Linked DNA regions of Homo sapiens: regions 1 and 2 are each linked to region 3. Evidence: fine-mapped expression QTL. A gene starts in region 3. Each other region holds a variant in brackets. All regions are shown on one strand. Distances are between the middles of the regions.

Region 1 (5,000 bases), 55 kb after region 3:
AATTGTTTGTCTGTTTGTTTGTTTGTGAAATGGGGTTTTGCCATGTTGCCCAGGCTGGTCTAAAACTCTTGGATTCAAGGGATCTACCCACCTCAGCCTCCCAAAGTGCTGAGATTATAGGCCTGAGCCACTGAGTCCCACCCAGAATGTTTTATTTAATCTCTCAATCTAACAAAAATATTTGAGTTTACTGTTGTCTAAACAATAAACATCCCAGTTTCTCATTACAATTCGGACCTGAATTATTCTGTGCCATTCCTATTCTATAATCAGATGCACTGATTATCTGCTGGCATCTTTTACCTGCAGTGCAGATACAGAAACATGAAAAACACAAACACAAGAATCCACATATGGGCTTCAAGGTGTCCATAAATCCCCTAAAAATGCTGTTCCTGCCTTTGACATACCAAGAATTTTTCTTCCTGCTAGCTCAGCTTTGCAGTTAAACAAAAATGATTTATAAATGTCAGAAAGCATTTTTAGGTACAGCTGCGTCAGAAATGGTTTGTCTGAAATGCCTTCCAAACTTCAATGTGTGTAAAAATTAGAAGATGTTGTTAAAAATGCAGGTTGTGGTTCAGTAGGTCTGGGATGGGCACTGAGATTCTGCATTTCGCACAAGCTCTCAGGTGATGCTTAAACTATTGGGGAGCCACATGCTCTGAGGAGTGGGTGTCAGATCTGAAAATAGAAGTGGGTTCTGTGTTTGTCTAATGTGTTTCTAAGCAGACTAACTTTGTTGTTTCAAATTATTTCAAGTTATCTCACCGTCTTTTAATCATTTTTCTTCACAATTAATCAAATTATAGTTTTCACTTAGTCGTTTTTAACAGACTATACACAATAAATTCAAAATTGATTTAGCATATGAGTAATGATTCAAATGTCTAAATTCTCCAGTAGTTTCCGAGCAGCAGTGATAGTTTGAGTTTTTTAAAAAAGAAAAAGCTAAGCAGCAGTTGAAGTCTGTGTTCTTTAATATTTAAGTTAAAATTAGAAACAAATTGAAACAGTGACCACAATAACTCAGTACCCTTGTCTTTCTGCTTCATCCATTGTTATCATTCTCTAAGTCACTAACCGTTAAAATACTCTTCATTCCTTTCTAACATAATTCTTTGTTCATTTACTTCCTCTACACAAAGTTCTCTAATTCCAAATGTGTTACAAAGAAGAGACATTACGTGAAGCCGGGTGATGTGACCATCTCCGACCTTGATATGGAAATCCATGTTTTTCCATGATTTTCCTAAAACGATTCCTTTATAACTGGCTCCAGGACTTAAACTCACTGTTTTATCTTGATTTGGTTGTCTTATGTATAACCTCCCGTTATTCAACTTATCTGAAATTTTAGTTAGCTCTAATTAAATTTAATGTAGCCTCTTCATCATTTATTTTATGTTTGAACTGTGGGCAAATACTGGGTTGTGTGCTTGAATGAACCACAGGCATAACATAGGATAAATAATGCCATGTTTCAGGTCTTTTAAGTGGAGAATTTGGCATGGACATTTAAACATGTTTTTGATCTATTTTATTAGTAAGTTGTTTACCAATTCATCAGTAGTATAACTTCTGTCATAGGAATTAAATCAAATGCTCGCAGAAACACCACCAGTTTGGAAAGGCTCATCGAAGCTATTTCGAAATCTTAAAGAAAAAGGTGAGTTAACCTTAGTACTTGTTCTTTTTTTAAACTATATTATGTATACTATTTATATATGCATATTTTCCCATACCTAAAATAATTTTTAAATTACATCTATGTGTATGCATAGAGAAAAAACTGAAGAAGAAAACAGCAAAATATTAACATTTCTGGGTATTAATGTTGCTCTTGGGTAATTCCACCCTTCATTAAGGGTGGTTTTCATGTTATTGTTTATATATTATTTGTATCTTCCAAATTTTTTTATATCAGATTGGACTTACATAGTTTAAAAAATTGTTCTTCAACCATATCAAAAAGTATATTTTATATTTACCCAAAGAAAACATTTCACAAAAATACTAGATCTTCAAAGGTCTATTTTTCTTCCTTCCATTTTGCTCTGAGTGAATTATAGATGCTCCTAAACTAATTAACAGGAAAAATTTAGTGGATGTGTCCTTTGACAGCCTAATTTGGACATGTTTCCTTTAAAGGCCAACACTTACTGCAAATATACCTGTTTCAACTTACTCTATTATCAATATCAATATTAGCTTAATTCATTAATTTAAACATTTCCTGGCAATCAAATTATATGGCTTTTATTGTAATTTTCTTTTACAGGGTACCTTTTTACACATTTGTAGAAAAAATTTATTAATCTTTTTAATCTTAAAAAGTAATATTTCTTGGAAATGTATTTTTTGTATCCTCAAATACAGGAATATGCAAAATAAAAATGTTAAAGAAATTACATAAGCAGTTATATTTTCCCTTTTCATCAATTTTAACCAATATTGGCTTGAAAATAATGTACTTCAGCCTGAAGACAAATACTTTGAAGGAGTAGTTATAATTCATATATTTTATTTAAGTAGAATTAGAAAGTTCATATTGCTTCCACGTGGTTTACATAGAATCTGAAAGGAAGAGACACCATATCTTTTATTGTAGGTGTTTCATAAGTAAGATTTTTAAATCTTCAAGAAACCTAGGCCAAAGTGTCTTAAAAAAAATCTTAGAAATTTTTTTCCTAGATGTTGTCTTAAAGATTGCCATTCAGATCTTAGGGTGAGATAATAGGATGAGGAAAATTCAAAGCTCATAAGGATCAAGTAAGTATGGTGAATTTCAAACATTTTTCTTAATATACCTCATGGGAAAATACAAATTGGATCAAATATAATCTGAGAAAAATAATGCATAGAAGAAAGAACCTTTTTTAAGTTAAGGGGAGGGTTTAATCTGGAAGTCCTAGGTTTAGGCATATCCTAATCCTTCTCATGTTATACA[CAT/C]GTTTGCATTTTTTTCCCCAGGGGATAGAATCTATGCTGCACCACTATGACGGAAATACTCTGTTTCTATGCTGTCTCTTATGGTAGCTACTAGCCGCATATGGCTGTTGAGCACTTGAAATGTGTCTAGCGTAACTGAGGAACTTATTTTTAGTTGTATTTGATTTTAAGTATTTTAAATTTAAATAGCTACACCCTGTAGTACAATGCGTATCTGTATCATATTAATTAGATCATCAGGGTGATGCATGATCCCAGAAAGTTTTAGAATCATTAGGTTAGGTAAAATAGAGAAGTTAGAAGAGCCTTGCTTTTTTTAAATAGCGATTAAGTGGCAGAGAAATTTTAAGACTAAATCTTTAGAGCTATTGAAGACTAATTTTATTTTTATTTTTGTTTTATTTTATTTATTTATTGAGTCAGGGTCTCATTTTGTCACCCAGGCGGGAGTGCAGTGGTGCCATCATGGCTCATTGCAGCCTTGACCTCCTGGGCTTAAGCGATTCTTCCCCCTCATTTTTTGAGTTTTTGTAGAGACAAAGTCTCACTTTGTTGCCCAGGCTGGTTTTGAACTTCTGGACTCAAACGGTCCTCTTGCCTCGGCCTCCCAAAAGTGCTGAGATTATAGGTGTGAGCCACCATGCCTGGCTAAAGACTAATTTTAAAATTGTAAGTTTATCTACTTAAAATATTACCTCGAGAGAAAATGTTATGCATTTAAATAATAAAAAAATTGATATGCATTCATGAAAACATGTATTGTAGAGACTTAATTATAACAGCCAACTGCAATGTATTGTGTATAGGAATTAAACCATGTAATGCTTTTAAGGAACTTCCCTTAAAATTTGTTTTGATTGAATTTTCGAAAGAAACCTAGTTGGCATCTTTCTTATCCTCTGTTTCTAAAGATCACACCATTACTATATGCCTAGCTTTTTTTTTTGTATTTTTTGATCCTGCACGCCATAAATAAATTGAAGAGTTAGTTTTATAGTATTCTGTTTGTATAATTGGAAAGCATTAAAAATATACCGTTCATCTTCAGTAGTATTTTCTCTTTTCCTTGACCATTTTTATTAAATTATAATATATCATGGGTTTCACTTCATTTTTCTTCCCTGTGGTTTAAGCCACTTCAATCACCATGTGATCCTACAGACAAACGCCTACCATGATATTCATGGTCTGGACACTCACTATTAAGTAGTCCTTTCCTTGAGGGAAATCTTGAGTTAACTATCAAATAAAAGATGCATAACAGTTATTAAAGTTCTTTATACCAACCAACATCTCTTGTGTATTCTACCAGGTCAACTAGAACAACAGTTAGTGAGATGGGATTATGGAGACAGCATGCCCATTTCCCATCCCATTTCCTTTTCTCGCCCCTTCTTTTATGCTCTTCTTTCATTTTTTGAGGGATCCCTACAGACTCTTAAGTATTGTATCTTTATATACATTGACCATTCCAGAATCTTTCTCCCATAACATTCATGGCAATCAACCAGAACTATCTGTCTATAGGTCACAATATTCTAGTATAAACAAAAGAAGGGAATGAATGCTTTCAGGGCCTCCTGGCTAGTGCCCTTCATGTCTCTGACAAACTGCCTGACAGTGACTCCTCTTCTCTTTGTTCTGTAACAAAGAAGACAGCCTCAAAGAACATCAGATAAAATGGAGTTTTAAAGTTCACAATCTGGTTATTTTAAGGATTTTTATACCCTTTTACCAAGCGTCAGAACTATCTGATATCTAAATAAGTATTGTAGATACAGATTACTGATGTCAATCTTCTCAGTATCTACTTGGAAGGTCAGTTGAAGCACTAAATCTAGTTTTGGGTTTTGTATTCCAAAAGCAAGAATTCAAGTAACAGAATGCACTTTTTTATTTACTTCAAAAGCACTCCTTTTGAAATTTGCAAGTATGGAGTTACTGAGAACTCAGGATGCGATGTACAGAAAGTATAAGCCATTTAATTACAATAAAAACTCCTCAGGGTACATTTAATAGAAGCATTGAAGATAATTTGAAAGCAGAAA
Region 2 (5,000 bases), 74 kb after region 3:
ATCAATAACAGACTCTGAACTTAAGCAAAAAATGTGTCACACTTACAGGGCACACTACATGCAGGACATCATTTTGGCTGTGCCTTTCACTTGTGAAGTTCTGGGCTACCTAACTGTATATTCTTTTACCTCTTTTAATGAAGGTCTACACATTTTACATGACATCTGGTAAAGGGGCCAGTAGCTCAGATAGCAAACAAAGATAACCGAGAAAACTTCAGGAAGTCTTTGCGTATTGGTCTACTATTTACATATCAAAGCATCATAGTTGTCTGTTTCACAGCCATCAAAGTGTCCAGTTACACCTGGGCATTTTTCTCTGTCAGCCTTTCCTTACTTAGCCTGTATGCATAGATATGTTCTGGTTTTATATTTGCTTTGCATTTCTTGCTATTAAAATCTAGTCTGACTTTCATTGCTACTTTAAGCTTATGTAAAATATCCTTACTGTATTATATTTTCGTGGTGATAAAACTTCCTACTAGTTTGCATATTCTGAGAATGTGCTCTTAACTTCATCGTTCAAATTGTTTAAAACATTTAAAACTGTCTCCAGAACAGTTACATATATAGGAATCAGTGAGTGTGCCAGGCATATCACTGATTTATTAGCTGTTTTTTCCTGCAGCAGTAGTTGCTGTAAGGATGTTGTTTCTGCCCTCAGAAACTTTATAATTATTTAAAAGATGATGTAAGATAAAACAAAAACAAATATATCCAGTTACAGCAATTCAGTAGTATATCCTAGCATTGTTTAATCCCTGAGGCTAAATGATGAACCAGAAAGCTTTCTGCAGCAGGACACTTGTAAAACTGTTACGTTCTAAATAAGATTTTTTAAATTTGAAAAGTTGTATATTATCCTAATAGATAAATACACATTTTCAAAATATTTTCAAATATGGCAAAGCAAGAAGAAAATTTAAAATATCCTAACCCCAACATTTGGAAATAATTAATATATTTACTTCTTTTTCTTGTCCACAAAATACATGGTTGGTTAAACTAATTTTAGTTCTTAATACGTTCTAAATATATTTGTGTGTGTGTGTGTGTGTGTGTGTGTGTGTGTGTGTGTGTGATTGTGGACAGTGTTTGGAAGTAAGGATGAGGCATGGCTTCACAAAGTGAATCATTCCTGCTACTCTTCTAACAGTAGTGCACAGTAAGCCTTATTTTCTAGTTTGGTGGGTTTAACAATCCCTTTCTTTATCACATATTAACCTTCTGAGTTGAACTTTTAAAACGCATCCACATTCAAAATATGTGAATAATATTTTCAGATCAATCATTTGATCTAGCTAGTATTTATTGAGGTTATTCCATATCTATATAAAATAAAATGAACTGTATTAGTTCTATATTTAGCTAGTCTTCCCTGTTTAGTTTATAACTGCTTAGTTAAAGCTTATATTATTATAAAGGGAGTGATGCAGATTCTCTGTCAATTTGCTACATTTATAGTTATGGTAATATTTATGTCTGTGTTATGTAAATGGTTCCTGCTAAATAATACTTTATTTACATTTTATTAAGATTTTATTAAAATATAGGCAGTGGGCAGTGTTTCTAGTTAGTAATAGTGAATTGAAACTTAGAGGACCTTTGAAATAATTCCTAGATGCATATAATTTTATTAGGAGCACTGGACTTTTAAAGATTAAGGCAAAATGAAAGAAAGAAAAGTTCTGTTTTCATCCAGCCACTCTTGAGTACACCATGCAGCATTTCATCTCACATTAACCAAAAGACCACCTGAGAACCTGTGAAATCTTCCCTGATAAATCCTGACAGAAACTGGGTTTAATTATTTTTGTTTATGGGGATCCAAGTTAGGCTTGCAGTTTGACATCTTCCTAGAGTGATTAGACTACACTTTTTAATCTACACTTCCTGATATCTCCTTCAGACTACCCTGTTCTCAGAATTTAGTATCCTGTCCTTGTAATAAATAATAAGTAGTACCGTAACCATTCACAATAGAAACACCTGCCAAATCTCAAGTAGTTTTGAGTGCTTTGACTTAAAACAGGTCTATTTCTTTTTGACAAGTTTGGGATGAATTTAAACTTTGTTTCTGTAAAGTATAGATAAAGTTATTTTGAGTCTTTGATACACTAGCAAGATAAATGATAGCCAGCAATAATGTATCTTTTAATAGGTTGCTACAAAGTTACCAAAATTTTTCCCAAACAAATTTACTTCACACAAGGTGTGAATAGAATTTTTTTTCACCCTTTCTTAGAAGTTACACACGTTTCAGTAGAGGGGCAGAAGGAGAGATCGGAGAATTTGATTCTTTTCGACAAAGCTACATTGTACTTA[C/G]AAATAGTGGTTATATACCATTACACCTTTGAAAGTATGTGAGTTACCAGCAGTGTAATACAATACTGTGGTGCACAGCAGAAAACAAAACAAACAAACAAAAAAAGGTAAGCTAATGTGTTTCCTTTTCAAGGTTGGTTAGATTTAAAGTGTATAAATTATCATTCTTTGTAACTATTCTTTAGATTTCAGTTGTGCTTCTTAAAACTTCTACAGGTACTTAAAACAGATGCTGAGGAACTTGTCTCCAGAAGCTATTGGGATACACTGAGACGTAACACAAGCCAAGCACTGTTTTCAGACCTCGCAGAGGTATAATTAAACCTCAACAAGGTCCTTGTACTATTTGCCATCTTGTTAATCTAGTCGTCATTTCATTTTAGTCACAGTGATGAAACCCAACATGTATGTTACATTTTCCATTGTTTTAGTACAGCAAAAATTACTATATATAAACTGTGTATTTGAATACATCAGCTTTGACAGTTGAACTTAATTAAAAGGAAATGGCATTTTTTTTAACTTAAGGATCACTTTCTAGAAATTAGAATATATATATTTTAAAGTTTCACTGAATCTTTTAAGCTTACAATTTACCATGTTACATGAAATGCTGAAATGTTTCCCCCAGTAAAAGATACCTGACTCTTCAGAGTTATGTTAGATTTAAACAAATTTCCTAGTATTGATAGTGAGTGGCTTACCAAGGGCCTGGGGTATGGGAGTTTGAGAAGGTATGGTAGGAACAGCCAGTCAAGGAAGGGAGGAATATTTTACCTTGACATTAAGATTGCCAGTGCATAGTGAAAATAAAAAGCAGACCGACCTTATTTCAGTTCTATTACTGTTTATGAATTTGTTACAGATCTGCATCGTACTGCTGCATCGGAGTGGGCTGCTTCCATTATCCCATTCTTACACCACTGTCAATAGAGATTTCTAGTTTCTCAAGATGGGCCATATCTTAGAAAAACTGTTTTGTGTTTCTTATTAAGAATTTTTCCTAAGAACTTTATTAGAGGCAGCTAGCGGTCTTACCAGAAAAGACTTTTCAATAAATACTGAGATTTGTTTTTCATTATCTCTTTCTCTTTACAGTGGGCTTCTCATTTCTTTTTCTAAACTTTAAATTTAACTTTTAGAAGTTACACCTGAAAATATCTGGAGAAGTAAACTGGAATCAGTTGTGACTTCTGTTATCCATATATACAATGTTACTCTATTGACATATCTAGACTAGGGCAAACACTTGAAAATGTTAATTTTGTCGCCCTTGCTCAGTTTTAAAGTCCCAAAGCAATTAAAGTATTTTGTCCTATGTTTAATATGTCTGTGATATATAAATGTGATGTAATTATGACCAACAATTACCTTTTAAAATTACCTTTTCAATATGAGCCATGATTAGGTATGAAGTGGCAGATGTTCCCTTTACAGATATTTTAGAAGCACTTTATTTTGTAATCATTATGTAGGCACATTGTAGTAGTCAGTGCTTAAAAATAAGAGCAACTGGGACTCTTAGAGTGCATACAAGTCAACTGTGTCCTAGTTTCCATGCTTCAAATCAACAGTCATATCATTGTTGTCTCTCCCCATACTAGAGTATCCACCTTCCAGCCTCCAACTATCTTCATCCCATTTAACTCTGGTAGACATTCTCAGTTAGACAAAATCTGCTAATCAGATGTTGAATTTAATTTAAATCTTGGGAAGTTTAATATCAGAAAACCAGTCAGTTCCTGTGTACTCAGAGAATTATATGATTTCTGTAAGATCTTTGGAAAAGGTATATGGTTCTGTTGTAGATAGACTGGAGGAGCTGTGGGCTTTTACAGCTTCCCAGAGCTAATTAATTCTGCACACCTCTTCCCAACTCAACATTCTGTGACACCCCCTTTGTTACTTGAAAGTGGCCGTGATAGGAGTATGAATACCACAGAAACTGGCCAACATTACAAATCAGCCTTTTTTTTTTTTCCCGGACAACTCAGTTTGCCAGCACACTATTGGCTGTAATTAATCCACACTCTGATCCAAAGCTGCTAAATTAATGAATGAATTGAATCAAATTTCATGAAAGTAAATCTGATGGAGACAATCAAGAAAGGAAAAAGAGGAAAAGAAAAGAAAACTTATATCGTGTTCCAGAGTAAAATAATTACTTGGGGTTTATCTGTTACTACCCTCCCACATTAGAATAATAATTGAGAATTAACTACAGTTCAGTTACAACTAATTATATAAATCCTTATAGGTTACTGTGAATACCAGCGGAACACAGAATTGTTTATAGTATTAGTATTTCAGGATTCAAATTGGTTCAGAAAGAAGGCTTGGAAATCTATTTGTTATATGTATTTCTTTATTATATATTTAATATGTAATTATTGAGATAAAATCTGTTTATTATAGGGAAATTGGGTTATTAGCCCCTCATATTCTAGTCTGGAGCTGTTTCTAACCATAGATTTTTAAAATTACAGTAAAACTCCGTGTCTCCAATTACTGTGAAACCATATAATGAAAATTTGAATATCAGAGCTAAGACTACTTTCTAACCAAAATCATATATAATAAATTCTTAGTGCAGTATGATGAGTATATTGTGCAACTGTTGAATACAGTCTGTCAGTGTCAAAATTATAAACACTGTTTTGAGTTCTACAGATGAA
Region 3 (10,279 bases):
CCCAGACACAGCTGGCTGGCCTAGGAGTGAAAAACTAACAAAGGAAGAAAACGTCTATAGGCCAGACCAACCTAATGCTTTCTCTTTAGGATTTGCATTAAGATTCATAGAGATTGGTAGAATTAGTAGCCAAGTCATGCTCACAGCAGTGTGCTAGAATGAATGTCCTTGAGCTCTTATGATGTAGGTCCCTAGAGCTGACCCGGTTACCACACTTCCTGACACCTCATAGTACCACTTTTCTCTGGATTCTCTATAATTTTATCCTTAAAATGTGTCTTTTACTTGAGCTAATGCAATTGCTATTTGATTCCTTGGAAATTAATATGCCTTAAGAAAAACGGTTTTAAATTCCGTCAGTTTCTGATGATTGTAATGCAGGAACTATCTAGATGTAGGGCAGAATATCTAGGCTCAATTTCTGGTAGTATAACTCAAAGAAAATCCTTTAACCTGGCAGCCTCTCAGTTTCCTCGTCAGTCAGTAAAAATGGAACGAGTGTATATTTCAGTGGTATTTAAGCCCCAGTAGTCTACAAAGTTACTTCAGGCTCCACTGTGAGAGCTGAAAAGGAATCTTTAAATGGACAAGGTCCGGATTTCCCTCCTTTTCCACTACAGACACTCTGCTGTTATCTACTTTGTGTTTTGGGGCTTAAGAAACAAGACTTCTTTTGGCAAACAGTTTTCACTAAGCACTCCCCTCCCCACCCCACGCCCACCACCCCCCAACAAAAACTTAGAAAGATTAGAAAATTCCCAGACTGAGCTATCTCTAAATTATTTTTGGTCTTCTATAACTTTATAGGGTAAATATTAAATGTTGCCATGCATATTACAAAAACATTTGAACTTTTTTTTCAGCTGTTCTGTTCCTACTGTTGTTTGCATTATCTTCTCCTAGTAGAGCGTTTCCAAAGAACCACGGTGGACTTACAACTAACTCAACTCAGTCCCAATCTGATAGCCCAGTCTTAGCAGAGATACTGACCTACTTTTTCCTGTGATTTCTGGGCCTGGCCTGATAATTTTACTTAGCACAGTGTTCTGGACAACCAATATCAATCAACTGAAGTTGGCAGGGGATGAAACTGGTTGCCATCCCACTAAACTTCTGCAGGTATGTACACTGACTAACCTTATGCTATTCTTGATGTCTCTAATGGCTCCCTCTTTATTCTGAGCTTTCCATCTGTTCTGAAGACTGCCCTTCTATTTGTTTATCTGCTCCTGAAGCAATTTCCCCATCCAACACCTGACAGTCGGGGGTTAGAGCCAGAACCAAGGGTATGTACTGGTTGCACTAGGCCTTACGATCACATACCCACTGGCTCTGTCCATATGGACGCTTCAGAGGAGAAAATGCTGCAAGTTAAAGAAGTTAAAACACTACATTGTTTGCTTAAAATACAAAGTTCCTTTTGGTCTTTTCCTTAATAAATACGAAAAATCACTAATAGTATCTTCTTAGTAGTCTTCAAGTAGTAAAAGATGTTTATTAAAATACTCCTTGGTTAAATCTTCTCAGGCTATATCAAGCTTATATAAGCTAAACTTTTCCTTTAGTTTCCAATTCTTCAATCAATTTTATTGTTCTTAGTTGAACTCTTTTCAAGCTCTACACATTCCTTTAAAGTTGTATAGTTCATAACTGAGCAAAGTCCTCTAGTAAATAACACATTAGTATAAGAGCATTAGGAAGAAAATCTATGTTTTCTTCTATATAAACTTTTTATTGAAGTGTTACGTATATAAAAATGTTATAGAAATTATAACTGGACAGCTCTACGAATATTTATAGAGTAAATACACGTGTCATTGGCACCCATATCAAGACACAGAACTCCCAAAGCTCCTTTTTCTGCCTTCTAATCACTTCCCTGCACCCAGGGAGACCACCATCCTAATGTCTAATGTTATTTATATCTATTTGTTGTTGTTGTTGTTGTTGAGCTTTTAAAATAGAGTAATAAAGTTGGTTCTTTTGTGTCTGCCTTCTTTACCTCACTTTTGCTTTAAAATTTATCCCAGTGATTGCATGTAGTTGCAATTCAGTAATTTTCATTGCTTTATATCATTTCATTATGTGAATATGCCACATTTTTAAATAATCCAAGCCACTGTTGATGAACATATGAATAGTTTCTGGTTTGTTGCCAATTAGAAATGATGCTACTATGAATATTCCTCTATATGTCTTTTTTTTTTTTTTTTTTTTTGAGATGGAGTCTCACTCTGTCACCCAGGCTGGAGTGCAGTGGCGCGATCTCGGCTCACTGCTAGCTCCGCTTCCCGGGTTCATGCCATTCTCCTGCCTCAGCCTCCCGATTAGCTGGGACTACAGGTGCCCACCACCACAGCCAGCTAATTTTTTTGTAATTTTAGTAGAGATGGGGTTTCACCGTGTTAGCCAGGATGGTCTCGATCTCCTGACCTCGTGATCTGCCCGCCTTGGCCTCTCAAAGTGCTGGGATTACAGGCATGAGCCACCCACTGTGCCCAGCCTCCTGTATATGTCTTTTGATGGACATAAGTACTCATTTCTTTTCATGAGTCTTTCACCTAAAAAGTGAAATTAATGGGTCATAGGATATGCATATGTCCAGCTTCAGTAGACACTGCTAAGCCCAGCGGGCCCAATCAAAACTCAGGCAAAGGAACCACTGGCCACAGAGGTTTCTGGACAGGAAAACAACACCCCAAAGATCCCATAACATTTTGCTACCAAAGTGTCACTCTTGTGTAATGGGTGATCATTATGTTACTATGAGGTTATTCTGCACCAGAAGACACTTTTTAATGGACATAGAAGCTTTAATCACTATCAGACATGAAAATAGGAAAAGACAATTGAGAAAGAGCTTCCTTGTTTTCCGGTGGGAGGCTTTGCTGGTAGTAAGTCCGTCCTGCTATTGCCTGTGTCCCAAGTACATAAGAAGTCACTACCACCAAATGGAGAACAAAGACACAGGGGATTGTGGGACTTAAACAGCAGAAATTGAACAGTGAGACACCATCAACAAAGACCCTGGAAATTATGTAAAACAGACTGGATAGACGTAGTAGTCAAACCGAGGGTGTTACTGCTCTGGAAAGGTAGTTAAAAGTGTACAATTGCCAGCTTGGTTATTGTCCCCAGTGAAAGATCTAAGAACAAAAGGGGAGGTGTGGCCAGTCAATCACTGATGTTTGGCCATGGATGATGCTGCATTTTCCTCGGAGGACCAAAAGAATGGACAGAGCCGGCTGGGCACTGTGGCCCACGCCTGTAATCCCAGCACTTTGGGAGGCCGAGGCGGGCAGATCATGAGGTCAGGAGATCGAAACCATCCTAGCCAACATGGTGAAATCCCGTCTCTACTAAAAATACAAAAATTAGCTGGGCATGGTGGCGCTCGCCTGTAGTCCCAGCTACTCGGGAGGCTGAGGCAGGAGAATTGCTTGAACCTGGGAGGCGGAGGTTGCAGTGAGCCGAGATCGCGCCACTGCGCTCCAGTCTGGTGACAAAGCAAGACTCCGCCTAGAAAAAAAAAAAAATGGAGAGAGCCTTGGGGAAAACCTATGGCTTTAAGGCTCTAGTCCAGGAGGATACGGCCAAATCATAGTAACAGGATAACTTCAGTGCTAGAATCTGAAAATCACAAAATCTGTTCTTGAATCAAGCTTTCTGCATGATCATACTTTGTTGTCCACCCCCCTCCCCTTTTTTTAGAGGGTCTTGCTTTGTCACCCAGGGGCTGGAGTGCAGTGGCATGATCATAGCTCACTGCAGCCTCGAACTCCTGGGGCAAGCAATCATCCCACCTCAGCCTCCTGAGCTGCTGGGACTGCAGGCATGCACCACCACTCCTGGCTAATTTTAATTTTAATTTTTGTAGAGACAGGTTCTCACTATGTTTCTCTGGCCGGCCTTGAACTTCTGGCTTCAAATGATCCTCCTGCCTTGGCCTCCCAAAGTGCTGGGATTACAGGTGTGAGCCACTTCACCTAGCCCACACTCTATCTGTGATCCTTCTTTGCCAGTCCCTTGCTTTTTCCCTTTGGCCTCCCATCTGTGTTGATTGCATTTCCTCATTGATGTGCTGCTTGGTTTGTCAGCTTGTTTAGTGTCTGATGGGCCATTGTATTTCCTTGTCACCTAACTTGCCTTCCTATGTTGACCTCCACCTTCCCCCCTTTTCAAGACATTGCTTTTCATTTAGTAAATATAATTGAGGTCCTAATGTGTGCCAGGAACTGGGCTAGAAGATGCATACCCTGGCCTCATGTTGCTTAGAGTCAGCTTGGCTTTGCCTAATGGAAAAAGGGTGAGATACAGATCACAGTCTTTGGGAATGAGAGCTCATCAAAACAGAAAACAGACCCTCAGTGTCTTGTGTAACTTGGTTTCCATAGCCCTGGATGCTGAGGAATTGAGTTCTAGATTGCTGGTGGGTAGCACTTTGAAGAAAACAGAGCAAGAACATACCTTCCCCAACACTGTCTCCTATGTCAGTTTTGCCCTAAGGAAGACAGCATGGAAGGTGGAAGGCAATTTGAGAAAATGATGACAACTTTCCCAAGAGAGAAGAAGATGGTTGCAACCTTGCTCTCTGCTGGTAGACTTGAGTGGACCTGGGGATGGGGTGGTTCATGTGCCCTGATACAGATCTCAGATGTAACTGCTGCTCTTTTAACTAGTCAAGAATCTGGAGCTCAGAATGACCAAAATAAGGAATGCAGTATATTTTAATAGAAGTTTTGTTAAACAAGACATTCCTGCCTATTGCACTTATATTCCACTTTTTCAAACTTTTCAAAATCACTAACGTATTTGCAATTTTAAATGCAGTAGAAGGTTAAAATAATTAGATAAAGGAATGGATTTTTTTTTTTTTAAACATAGTCTTGCTCTCTCACCCAGGCTAGAGTGCAGTGGCTCAGTGATGGCTTACTGCAACCTCCTTTTCCCCGGTTCAAGCCATCCTCCTATTTCAGCCTCCCGAGTAGCTGGGACCATAAGCACGCACCACTATGCCTGGCTAATTTTTGTATTTTTTGTAGAGACGAAGTTTTGCCATATTGCCCAGGTTGGTCTCGAACTCCTGAGTGATCAACTCACCTTGGCCTCCCAAAGTGCTGGGATTACAGACGTTAGCCTGCGTGGTCCGGGGATGGAATTTTAAGTTGAAAGAATAAAACAATCTTAGGCCAATTGTAGATTTTCAGAAGAGAAATGATACATGAAAAATACCATGAAGTATCTTTCTATGGTTTACTGATACACTTGGAGCATTTTAGTTCATTAGAAAGATGGGTTCAGGGGTGATCATCTATTTCAACTCCACTATTTTAGAGACTGTGGCTTCCAAAGCATTATAATTAAGATGCAGCAAATCCAAGACTGGAGTCCAGATTTCTTCACTTCTAATTTATTACTTATTCACTGAGGTATATGCTTTCCTGGAAAACCCTTTTTGGCTTAATCCCCATTGTTTGAAACATTTTTATTGTTTCAGAACATTTCTTTTTATTTAGACCATAGTGAACGATAAGTGGATATTTCTTTCAAGGTGTGGGCTCTCACTGTGGAGTAGGGGCATTTTGGGGGTTATTCTTAATGCTCAGTAGAATTGACATAAAAGATAAGGGATACTGGGTTGACTCTATATTGATCCAACAATATTACCTGAAATTTCAAAAAAAAAAGGTTCCAAATTCCTAATATCATATTTTCTTAAAATTTTTCCTCTGGGAATTAAACTCAGAAAAATATCCACATAACAAGGGAATTTGGTTATTTTTGTGTAGCTATAGTTACAGAGCATCAAACGTGGGAAGAAAACAGTAACTATTCTTAAGGAAATTTCACCTTTAGAGGGAAAGTACTGTTGAAAATTATTAGTAAAGCTGTTTTTGCACGTGAGAGGTATTTTATCCAAAGTTCTCTGACTGATCTACAAACATAAACTTAGCCCTTCTCACAGCAGTACTTAGCTTCTAACCAGATAAATTGTTTGCAGGAGCTCTATCAAATTTAGAAAACTATAGAGAAACTACATAGAAATCTATACGTATGTGTCTGTATTTGTCATCTTAGATGAAGGATGTCATTTTCCTCATCTGTAATGTGATGTTATTGTATTACCTCCCTAATCTTCTTTAGAACTACTTAGCTTTTAACATGCAACTAGTAAAAATTGATCAGTTTGTCCAAGAATTCTGGCATTAGACTATAATAAGAATTTATGAGAAAATCAGGAAATCATGTTCAGTTCAAAGTAAACAGTGTCAGAACTATTATTATAATTTTTTTTTTTTGAGACAGAGTTTCGCTCTGTCACCCACGCTGGAGTGCAGCGGCACAGTCTCGGCTCACTGAAACCTCCACCTCCCGGGTTCAAACAGTTCTCCTGTCCCAGGCTCCTGAGTAGTTGGGACTACAGGCGCATGCCACCACACCTGGCTTTTTTTTTTTTAAGTTTTTTGTATTTTTAGTAGAGATGGGGTTTCACCGTGTTAGCCAGGATGGGCTCTATCTCCTGACCTCATGATCCACCCGCCTCGGCCTCCCAAAGTGCTGGGATTACAAGTGTGAGCCACCACGCCCGGCCAATATGATTATTATATTATATATAATATATATAATTATTACCCAGAAGATAATTTATTTGGGGAAACTACCATTTCACAGAATATAGAGAAAGCATAAATTGAGGAAAATTTGGTGATAAAGCAAGACGCTATCAGAGTCTTCCTTAGGCATTGACTCCATAAAACCCACAGGCTGAAACTGAAGAAAACTCAGAGACAGGTTTTAAAATACACAAAATTTGTTCATCTGCTACAGAAGATTTTTCTTCTTACCGCTTTTAGCAGCTTTAAGAAAGCAAAATGCCATTAACCTCTATTAAAATAAGAGGTAACAGGGTGTACCTGATGTGCTATTTACATGCAAGGTGTTAGGAATAGAAATTGCAGGACCTCCAGGAGTTCGAGGCCAGCCAGGCCAAGATGGTGAGACCCCCATCTCTACTAAAAACACAAAAATTAGCCAGGCACGGTGGCGGGTGCCTGTAATCCCAGCTACTCGGGAGGCTGAGGCAGGAGAATCGCTTGAACCAGGGAGACGGACGTTGCAGTGAGCCGAGAATGTGCCACTGCACTCTAGCCTGGGCAACAGAGCAAGACTCCGTCTCAAAAAAAGAAAAAAAAAAGGGAAGAAATTGTAGGACCTGAGCCAGAAAAAACTCATTTGGTCGTCTCTGAAAGCCTTTAGTCTTTACAAGAATTGCCAGAATCAACTGATGGTGTATTCTCTTGTCACTGCAGCCCAATTGAGACCACTGTATTTAGTTGTCTGTCCCCTTAGATCCACAATATTTTAGGGACTCCTGGCACCATTCCATAGTAGGAAGAAAAAGCTAACATAATTCAAGTTACCAAAACTGGGGTCTGGGGAGAGAAACTGATAGGAACTTCATCTACACTTTCTCATAAAAACTGATACTGATAACATAGCAAACAAAAAGTACAGTAAAAACAAAAAGATGACACAATACGCTTCTCATTTATTTTATATTTATACAAACAGCGCTTCCCTGAAAAATCAGGGTATCGTTCAAGATTTTATCTTTATTCACAGAAGTTTTAAAATTTTTAACTTTTATATGCACAAGACAGTTCTGATTTGTTGAATTAAGTGACCGCGGGTGTGCTAATGCTTCTAAAAAACAGCATTAGCCTTCTCCCATCAAAAGTCCGGAAGCTGCCCTTCAGTCGTCAAAGTGTTTGCCTTAATTTGCAATCGTTATGACTTGAGCCAAATGCTTATACCTCATTTGTGTCGTATATGTGAAGATACAATTGCAAATCGTTCACGACCTTGAGTCAAGACCTTGAGTTTCCTGAGGTCAGGAGACCGTTAGGGAATGTGAGTGTCCCAGACGGGCGCTGAGCCCAGCTCGGAGACCCACCCCGCCCGTAGCAGCGGCGCGGGCCCCAGAGAGCCCCGCACTCGGCCGCGCCTCAGTTACGCTGACTCGGCTGTGCCCGCAGTGTCGCGCTGTCGCGTAGCCAGGTGTCGCCGGGCTGGCGCGGTTATTTATGACTGCGTGGTTGGGCTGGGGGTTCGGGGCCGGGGAGCAGCCGGGATCCGCCGCCTCTTCCATGATCTTCCCGGGCCGAACCACGGGACCGCTACGCTGAAGGTGGCGTCGCGGGTCCCCGGGGCCGCGCGAGTGTAGGGGTCGCTCTCGGCCGGCCGCGAAGCTCGCGGCACCGACTTCTCGCGAGATTTCGGCGACCCCCCCCCCCGCCCCCGCCCCTCCGTTCTCTGCCCCCTCCCAGCTCTGGTGTGGGCGGCCTCCGCTATGGCTGCGCTGCGAAGGCTCTTGTGGCCGCCACCCCGGGTGTCTCCTCCACTCTGCGCTCACCAGCCCCTCCTTGGGCCGTGGGGGCGGCCTGCGGTGACCACCCTGGGCCTTCCTGGCCGGCCCTTCTCCTCCCGAGAGGATGAGGAGAGGGCTGTGGCGGAGGCGGCATGGAGGCGGCGGCGGCGCTGGGGGGAGCTGAGCGTGGCGGCGGCGGCCGGCGGGGGGCTGGTCGGCCTGGTATGCTACCAGCTGTACGGGGACCCCAGGGCCGGCTCGCCGGCGACCGGGCGACCCTCAAAGAGCGCGGCCACGGAGCCCGAGGACCCGCCCCGCGGCCGGGGGATGCTGCCCATCCCAGTGGCGGCTGCCAAGGAGACGGTGAGTGCGCGAGCGCGCGTCACACCTGCGCGGGGGATGTGACCTTCGTGCCGGGTACGCAGGACCCTGGAGGCTGTGGGGACGGTGCAAGCGCTGTGGCCGCGGGTGAGGAACTTCCCGTGAGCGAGGCTGACACCTAGGCCGGACAGCCTAGGATCCGGTCACCCACGTATTGGGAAGACCAGTGATGCTGTCCCTGATGCATCAGGACCTTAAAGGTGGCTGCAGCTACCAAGTATCAATCCAAACCCAAAACCAACACCCCTCCCCCTCTTACAAAAAAAGATTCAGAAATGAAGGCCATGACAGGCAGAAAGTGGACCGCTGTAGGTGTGGGAAAAAGGAACTCCTAGATTGCGCGGGGCGACAGCTAATGACCCAGGAGGTCTGTTGCATTAGAATGAGTTTCGAAGCAGCGGTCTGAGATCTCAAAAGCCACTACTTTAGCATATGAGAATTTATTAGTCCCAAGAAAGGAAATGCTAAACCTGCATGCTAACGCCCTTATCATACCCAGGGAATGTTGATGTTACCAGGTCTGAAAAGAAATAAAAAATTGTTCAAAAAGAGACATAAGTATTTCTCTCTTTTTCCTTCCCCCACTAAAGCCAGAATCCCGTTAGTAGGTAACGATAAAACACAAAATGGATAGGATAGCAAATGTAGGAGGCTGTGAATGACACAAACTCCTACAGAAGAAAGTCACGTGAAAATGTTCAACTGTCATTATGTAGTTAATAATACAAGGTAAAGATGTGTGAAAGGCAACAGTGAGTAAAGGAGCGTGATTTTTTTTGTCGCATCAGTATATTTAATAGTCATGTAAATGACTAGGAAAATTAAGGAGATTTTCCTTGCAAGGCTCGAAGAATGTGAACGGCGTAGATGAAAATAATTTAGAAAACAGAGAGCTATGCTGTTTCTAATGCAATTTTTATAGGCTTTGTTCTTAATACGCAGTGGTGATCTGATGTAAGTGCATCATTTCCTTTGGTGGAGGTTGTCAATGCAATTAGGTTACGGAATCTGCTTTATGGACTATCTAGCAGCAGATCACAAGCACATAACATAAAGTCCTTTTACACATGAATATTCAAAATACTAGGAAATACCCTCAAATCTCCACCCCCTCCCCCTTCACAAATACACATCCACTTTTGTGGCTTGGCAAGGAGCATAGCGTTTTTCATGATGGCAGAACTTTTAATTAACCATAGTTGGTCTAGGAACAGATCAGCAAGGTAGGGAATTCAAGTAGTATTTTCTTTTCTTTCTTAAAATTAATTTTACTTTTACAGTTGAGAGATGTTATCTTGCAGTTTTTAAAAAGACCACGTTCAGAAAGCTAGAACTTTGGCTCCACGACTTGCTACTTGTGTCATTATGGAGAAATTACTTGACCTGTCAATGCCTGTTTCCTCACCTGTGAAATGAGGCTAATAGTCTCCTGGGGTGTTATGAGAGTTAAATGAGTTAACACAGTATATTTAAAACAATGGTACTACTAAAGAACATTAAATAAATTTATTTTTTGGCTGAGCGTGGTGG

What was found. PIP is the estimated chance that this variant, and not a neighbour inherited with it, causes the effect. A credible set is the group of variants that fine-mapping cannot tell apart.
Region 1: its variant is the best candidate, but not a certain one, in a credible set for the expression of MICU3 in fibroblasts (GTEx, PIP 0.75).
Region 2: its variant is the best candidate, but not a certain one, in a credible set for the expression of MICU3 in prefrontal cortex (BrainSeq, PIP 0.79).

Annotation. Positions count from the first base shown.
Region 1 is chr8:17,076,193-17,081,192 of GRCh38, forward strand. It overlaps MICU3 (mitochondrial calcium uptake family member 3), which reads left to right. Exons shown (of 15, transcript NM_181723.3): 4 at 1,591-1,669. Among named protein-coding and RNA genes, the nearest start is that of MICU3, 51 kb to the left of the region's middle. The variant CAT/C (reference allele first, on the strand shown) is at 2,951.
Region 2 is chr8:17,095,917-17,100,916 of GRCh38, forward strand. MICU3 (mitochondrial calcium uptake family member 3) reads left to right here. Exons shown (of 15, transcript NM_181723.3): 9 at 2,542-2,637. Among named protein-coding and RNA genes, the nearest start is that of ZDHHC2, 58 kb to the right of the region's middle. The variant C/G (reference allele first, on the strand shown) is at 2,326.
Region 3 is chr8:17,018,930-17,029,208 of GRCh38, forward strand. MICU3 (mitochondrial calcium uptake family member 3) reads left to right here and starts at 8,309. Exons shown (of 15, transcript NM_181723.3): 1 at 8,309-8,731. The coding sequence starts at 8,351. RefSeq lists a silencer at 8,287-8,696 and an enhancer at 8,847-8,936.